Linked DNA regions of Homo sapiens. The protein of the gene in region 2 purifies or fractionates together with the protein of the main gene of each other region. This does not show direct contact. Each region holds a gene or a part of one and is shown on either strand. Other genes may lie near its edges.

Evidence for each region. The genes of interacting proteins can lie anywhere in the genome.
Region 1: the proteins of HDAC11 (region 2) and GCFC2 purify together in Homo sapiens (co-immunoprecipitation; 4 studies listed by BioGRID and IntAct, with this or other methods). This does not show direct contact.

Annotation. Positions count from the first base shown.
Region 1 is NC_000002.12:75,708,116-75,712,415, reverse strand, and holds the start of GCFC2 (intron Large complex component GCFC2), read left to right. Parts: upstream 1-1,500; 5' UTR 1,501-1,560; coding exon 1,561-1,825; exon of another isoform or gene 1,826-1,972; intron 1,973-4,300.
Region 2 is NC_000003.12:13,486,806-13,490,305, reverse strand, and holds part of HDAC11 (histone deacetylase 11), read right to left. Parts: intron 1-3,500. UniProt on the Homo sapiens protein: Responsible for the deacetylation of lysine residues on the N-terminal part of the core histones (H2A, H2B, H3 and H4).

The DNA of each region.
Region 1 (4,300 bases), on a different chromosome or scaffold from region 2:
ATCAGATTAGTTAGATACAGAGTTTCCACACACAGGTTCTCCAAGGCCTCACCAGAGCAGCTAGATAGAATGTCTATTGGTGCACTCACAAACCTTGAGCTAAACACAGGGTGCTGATTGGTGGGTTTACAAACCTTGAGCTAGATACAGAGTGCCGATTGGTGTTTTTACAATCCCTGAGCTAGACATAAAGGTTCTCCAAGGCCCCACCAGAGCAGCTAGATACAGAGTGTCGATTGGTGCACTCATAAACCTTGAGCTAAACACAGGGTGCTGATTGGTGTGTTTACAAACCTTGAGCCAGATACAGAGTGCTGATTGGTGTATTTACAATCCCTGAGCTAGACATAAAGACTCTCTATGTCCCCACCAGACTCAGGAGCCCAACTGGCTTCACCTAGTGGATCCCGCACCGGGGCTGCAGGTGGAGCTGCCTGCCAGTCCGGCGCCGTGCGCTCGTACTCCTCAGCCCTTGGGTGGTCGATGGGACTGGGCGCCGTGGAGCAGGGGGTGGTGCTCGTCGGGGATGCTCGGGCAGCACAGGAGCCCATGGAGTGGATGGGAGGCTCAGGCATGGCGGGCTGCAGGTCCCGAGCCCTGCACCGCGGGAAGGCAGCTAAGGCCCGGCGAGAAATCGAGCACAGCGCCGGTGGGCCGGCACTGCTAGGGGACCCAGTACACCCTCTGTAGCCGCTGGCCCGGGTGCCAAGTCCCTCACTGCCCGGGGCTGGCAGGGCCGGCCGGCTGCTCCGAGTGCAGGCCCGCCAAGCCCATGCCCACCCGGAACTCCAGCTGGCCCGCTGTCACCTCTCAATATGACGCCACTAAACATGGAGTTGATAACAGGTGTGCAGTAGCTCAACATTATATAGTATTTCTACCATACAGATACAGTAGTAGACAGAGCTTGATGAATATAGAACAAATTTGCGTCAGACAATAGCTTTTTGTTTTTAGATAGTTTCTTTAAGGGTGAAAACATTTAACCAGGCTCTCTTGAAGCCCTGCTGCCTGGGGGAAGTCATTTGATTTTTGCTAGTCTGTATGCATTGTTTATGTACAGACTTTATGGTTTTGTTCTCAAAGGCATCTCCTCCTACCCCGAGCCTCACACTGCTGGGGTTTCGTTTGTTTTAAATCTTGGTTGGAGGGGGCACTCTCTCCAGAAAGTAAAAGACAACGGATCTGGCTCCAGTCCAGGACGGAAAGCATAACGCTTGATTTCTGGATGGGGTTTGCACAAGGACAGCACGTGAGTTCTGCTCTCCGTGGGACTCAGACCGGATAGGCCGTGAAAATCTCTAAGGTGTCAGTCCACGCAACCTAACCTGGCAAAGGGAATGCTTTGCAAACTCAGGCCCCAGAACAGAACTCGGCCTACCAGATCCAGGGAGCCAAAGCACGCAGGCGCAGACAGAGTAGCGGTGAGCAGAAGGCAGGCGGGACGGGCGCGCGCACTCGGCGGCCAGGCGCGGCGGGAGCGCGCCCTAGGGGGCGGGCACTGAAGCTGCGGCTTGCGGTTCAGCGGGTTCTAGGGCGCCGGGCGCTCGGGCCTCGGCCATGGCTCACAGGCCGAAAAGGACTTTTCGGCAGCGCGCGGCTGATTCCAGCGACAGCGATGGCGCCGAGGAGTCGCCTGCTGAGCCTGGGGCGCCGAGGGAACTTCCGGTCCCGGGTTCTGCGGAGGAAGAGCCGCCCTCTGGAGGAGGCCGCGCGCAGGTGGCGGGACTGCCCCACCGGGTTCGGGGCCCTCGTGGCCGGGGCCGGGTCTGGGCGAGCTCCCGGCGTGCCACCAAAGCGGCTCCCCGCGCGGACGAAGGCTCAGGTGTCCAGGGAGACGCGGGGAAGCGGGGAGGTGACGGCACAGGGCGGGAAGGGGCCGCGGGGTCTCTGGATCCTTCTCTGGGGGTTCTATAACTTGCTGCCGACCACAAGCCATGCTGAGTCTTATCCAGAAAGACTTATCCAGAAGGTAGTGAGCGAGAAAATAGCTCGAGCACTTGCCCGCTATCTGCATCTGCCTTTTGGACTCCTTGGGGGAAATAAAACAATCGTGTACAGTTGGGAGGCTCTTCGTTTTCACCATCAGTTGACTCCATCAGTTATAACTAACACAGTTATCAAAGTTTATGAAGAACCTAAACTGTCACAACAAAGTTCAATAATTTATAATACTATTAAGTGGGCAGAAGTTATATGTACCTTTTAGACACTTGACCAACTTATCTTTCTTGAAAACATTTAGCCAGAGTAGTACAGGAATCTAGGTTTTGGGACATTCCCCTTTGTTTATTTTCTTTTTTCACCAGTTATTTGCAAAAACTAATAGTAATATATACAACACAAAGAAGCATGATAGAGATTCATGACACTGTAGATGGTACCAGTAATGGTGTTAGATATAGTGTCGTCATTTTGAAGTACCTTTGAGTTCTTAAATACAGGTGTAAGGCAGCATAAAGTTGTTTAAATAAAATGTGCTGCTCTGAGTTGGAATTGTAGCTTAATGAGGAATACGGTTTTTGGTTAGTCTTGAGAGCTAAAATCTTCCTATTATTTTTTATTGTCATTAAAGTGATTTTTATTAATTTATTGAGAAGTAAAAAATGTATATACTTATAGTGTACAACATGATGTTTGAAATGTGTCTACAGTGACTAAATGGAGCTAATTAACATTTGCTTTACCTTAGGTACTTACTTTTTTTTGTGGTGAGAACACTTACTATCTACTCTTACTAATTTTCAAGTATGCAATGCATTGTTATTAATTTTAGTCACCGTGTTGTAGAATAGAATTCCTCTTGTCTAATTAAAATGTGTGCCCTTTGACCAGTATCTTCCCAACTACCCTCAACCTCACTCAGTCCCTTCTAACCACTACTCGACTCTCTGCTTCTGTGATTTCTGATTTCCACTTTTTTAGATTACATATGTGAGATCATGTGGTGTTTGTCTCTCTGTGCCTGTCTTATTTCATGTAACATAATGTCCTCCAGGTTTATGATCTTCGTGATTTCTTGGTCTTTCTTGTGACCTTCTATTTGTCTAAAGTTTTCATGACCTTTTATATTTGTTTTCTGGTTAAACTTTGTAGATGAAAGTTGAAGTCAGGAGTTCCTTTTCTCTTGCCTTCTAGAATAGTGGTTCTCAAACTCTTTGGGAATTGGACCTCTTTTAGACTCTTAGAAATGATTAAGGATTCCAAAGAGCTTTTGTTTCAGTAGGTTATACCTATCAATATTTATCACACTAAAAATAAAATTTATTAATTCACTTACAAAAAATCTATTACATGTAAGGATAAGTAAGATTTTTGTGAAAAGTATTACCCCAAAAAAGGAAGAGTAGCATTGTTTTCAATTTACAGATCTCTTTAATGTCTGGCAAAATATTAATAGAAGACAGATGAATTGTCATAGGTGTTTCTGCTTTTAATCTCTTGTGCTATTTTGTTTTGGTTGAAGTATTTGAAGAAAATACAGCCTCTGACAGATACATGATTAAGACGAGTACTTAATAGCATTTTTAGATCATTGAGGGTGTTGTGCTTTAATATAACACAGCTCAACAAGTAATAAACTAACCCTTCTTAAAAGTTAGTTGCGGGCCGGGCACAGTGGCTCACACCTGTAATCCCAGCACTTTAGGAGGCCGAGGCAGGTGTATCAAGAGATCAGGAGTTCGAGCCCAGCCTGGCCAACATGGTGAAACCCCATCTCTACTAAAAATACAAAAATTAGCCAGGCATGGTGGTGGGTGCCTGTAATCCCAGCTACTCAGGAGGCTGAGGCAGAGAATCACTTGAACCCGGGAGGCAGAGGTTGCAGTGAGCTGAGATTGTGCCACTACACTCTAGCCTGGGTGACAGAGTGAGACTTTATCTCAAAAAAAAAAAAAAAAAAAAAAAAAAAAGTTGCCAAATGGATTCTTAAACCATATGATTAAATTTGGGGTGCTCTTACCTTAAAACTCTGTTCTGTTTTGTACTTTGGATCTTTTACTCATGAACGATTGGTAACATCTTGCATTATTTGGAAGGTATTCATTAGCTGAGTTTGCAGATCTTGCAAATGTTGGAGCATTTTATTGTACAATACCAAAAAAATCATAGTATTACCACTGATTAATCAGTCTGTAAGTACTGGAAAGCTGTTAGGTTCACAGTAGAGAATATAAGTTTTCCAAAATCTCAATTTTCACTTGAAATCTCTCATTTTATTGATAGGCACAACCGGGCTCATGTTTTGAGAAAATGTTTGTCAGATAGCCATGTCTGAATAATCGGTTTGTTAGTCATT
Region 2 (3,500 bases):
AAAAGAACAAAGTTGGCTGGGCACGGTGGCTCATGCCTGTAATCCCAGCACTTTGGGAGGCAGAGGCAGGCAGATCATGAGGTCAGGAGTTTGAGACCAACCTGACCAACATGGTGAGACCTCATCTCTACTAAAAATAGAAAAATTAGCTAGGCGTGGTGCCGGGCGCCTGTAATCCCAGCTACTCGGGAGGCTGAGGCAGGAGAATCACCTGAAACCAGAAGGCGGAGGTTGCAGTGAGCCGAGATCGCGCCATTGCACTCCAGCATAGGCGACAAAGCGAGACTGCGTCTCAAAAAAAAAAAAAGAACAAAGTTGGAGGCCTCACAATCTGGAATTTCAAAATTTGCTCCAAAGCCACAATAACCACAGTAAGCCACAGTAACAGTACCAAAATAGTGTGGTATTGACATATAGATCAAATGAATAGAATTGGCTGGGCGCAGTGGCTCACACATGCCTGTAATCCCAGTACTTTGAGAGGCCGAGGTGAGCAAATCACTTGAGGTCACGAATTCAGGACCAGCCTAGCCAACATGGTGAAACCCCATCTCTACCAAGAAACACAAAAATTAGCCAGGCATGGTAGCACACGCCTGTAGTCCCAGCTACCTGGGAGGCTGAGATGGGAGAATTGCTTGAACCCAGGAGACGGAGGTTGCAGTGAGCCAAGATGGAGCCACCGTACTCCAGCCTGGGCTGTCGAAAGAATGCAACCCTTTCTTAAACAAACAAACCAAAAAAATGAATAGAATTGAGAGTCTAGAAATAAATCCATACATCTATGGCCAGTTGATTTTCTACAAAGGTACCAAGACCATTCAACAGGGGAAAAACAGCCTAACAAATGGTGCTGGGATAACTGGATATCTGAGTACAAAACAATGAAGTTGGACTTGCCTCACACATATACAAAAATTAACTCAAAATTTATCAAGGCCTAAATATAAGTGAAAACTATAAAACTCTTAGAAGAAAACACATGCGGTAAACCTTCATGACCTTGGGTTTGGCAATGGATTCTTAGATATGACACCTAAAGAAAAGGAAAAAAAGATAAATTGGACTTCAGCAAAACTAAAATTTTTGTGCATCAAAGGACACTATCAAAAAAAAGACAACCCACAGAATGGGAGGAGTTATTTACAAATTAAATAATATCCAGAATATATAAAGAACCCTACAACTCAACAAAAAGACAAGCCAATTTTAAAAATGGACAAAGGACTTGAATAAACATTTCTCCAAATGACATATACAAATAGCCAATCAGCACATGAAAAGATCCTCAGTGTTAATTAGCCATTAGGTAAATGCAAATTAAAACCATGAGATACCACTTCACATCCAGTAAGATGGCCACACTGGGGGGGAAAAAAAAAAACACCAGAAAATAACAAGCATTGAAAAGGATGTAGAGAAATTGGGACCCTGGTACATTACTGGTGGAAATGGTGCAGCCCCCGTGGAGATCACCTTGATGGTTCTTCAGAAAATTAAACAGAATTACCATGTGACCCAGTAATTCTACTCCTAGGTGTATACCCCAAATAACTGAAAACAGGTATTCTAATAAATACTCGTATGCACATGTCCACAGCAACACTACTCACAATAGCCAAAAGGCCTATAAACTAATGAATGGATAAAAAAAATGTAGTGTTTTACAATGGAATATCATTCTGCTGTGAAAAGGAATGAAGTACTGATACATGCTACAACACAACACAGATGAATGTTGAAAACGCTGTGCTTAGTGAGATAAGCCAGACACAAAAGGTCACATATTGTATGATTCCATTTATATGAAATATCCAGGATAGGCAAATCCATAGAGAGAGAATGCAGGTGAGTGATTACCAAGGGGACTTGGGGGGATAAATGGGGAGCAAGTGTTTAAAGGACACAGGGTTTCCTTTTGGAGTGATGAAAATGTTTGGAACTAGAGATGATGGTTGCAGCACTTTGTGAATGGACTAAAGGCCACTGAACTGTACAGTTTAAAGTGGTTAATGGCGAATTTTGTTATGTAAATTTTACCACAATTAAAAAAAATTTTTTTTTAAAGGAGAGAGGAGCCCCTCAGGGAAGAGAAGAGAGAGTTGGAGACCAAGAGGAGCTCACTCCCCTAGAGACTCTCCAGGGTCCCTCCAGGTGCTCCATGGAGCTATGGTCTGTGTCTCCTTCTCTCCACACTATACTGGAACTCATGACAGATAGTTCTGCCCTGGGATCTTTGCACTTGCTGTTTCTTCTGCTTGGAATGCCCTTCCCCAGATGACCACATCACCCACTCCCTCACTCCCTTCCCACATGTCACCTGTGATCACAGGTAGTAAGCCCTTTCCTGACTCCTGATTTAAAACTGCCATCCTCTCACCAGCTCTCCCCACCCCTTTTCTGCTGTCCCTTCCTTTCTTCACGACACTCAGCACCATCTAACATATTATCTCATTACTTAATTATTACATTTATTGTCTGACTCTCCCACCTAAATGCCAGCTCCAGCAGGAAAGGGATGTGGTCTTTTGCTCCATCCCATCCCTGCAGCACCTAGATCACAGAGTGGTGCCCTCTGAGCACTTGCTGGATCCACGTGTTCTGAGCACTGTCCAGTGCAGAGTGCACAGGGGCAGGATGTCAGATGCTGCCCAGCACTAACCGACACTCCATGGCAAACTGTCACCCGAGAATCAACCAAAGGCAAGAGCCCAGTGCTGGGGCACTGGGGAGCTCAACAGCTACCCTCAGAGGGGCCAACCCTGGACCTTGCACACAGCAGGAGCTTGATAAACATGGGTTTCCCTGAATTGACATCTTGCAAACGTCCAGCTCCTGCTTCTCCTTCAGTGCCCTGTTTATTAAGTATCAAAGGCCACACCAGTGCAGAGTCAGGCATGAGCCCCAGGCAGGGGTTGGGGGTAGAATGGGATGAGGCAGGGGAGACGGTGGATGTTACACAGCACACACAGAATGACCAGGGAAAAGCAGCCTGAGAAACCTGAAGGACTCTCTAGGGCACTCTCTGGGCGCCCACAGCAGAGGAAGGAGAAAAGAAACATTGCAGACATCTGCAGGGAGGTGGGAGATGTTCCTGAGCTGCAGCCTTAGGTGCCAGATGATGTCTGAAACGGGCTTGGGTCCCACCTGGGCAGCAAGGGCATGTCACACCATATCACCCTCCTGCTGAAAACCCCCTCGTGACTGTCCAAGGTCCCTGGAACAACATATACACTCCTCCCACGGCCTGCAAGACCTTGTGTGGCCTGGGGCTCTGGCCTCCCTAACTGCACCGTGTACGAGCCACAATGTTTTATTCCCTTCCATCCGGCCTCCCAAGCATTCTTCTCCCCTTTGGAAGATCAAGTCCCCTCCACCCTCCAGGCCTGGGATTCTGAAACATTCTTCCTTCAAAGCTATACATGAGGGCCAGGAGCAGTGGCTCATGCCTGTAATCCCAGCACTTTGGGAGGCCGAGGCAGATGGATTGCTTGAGGTCA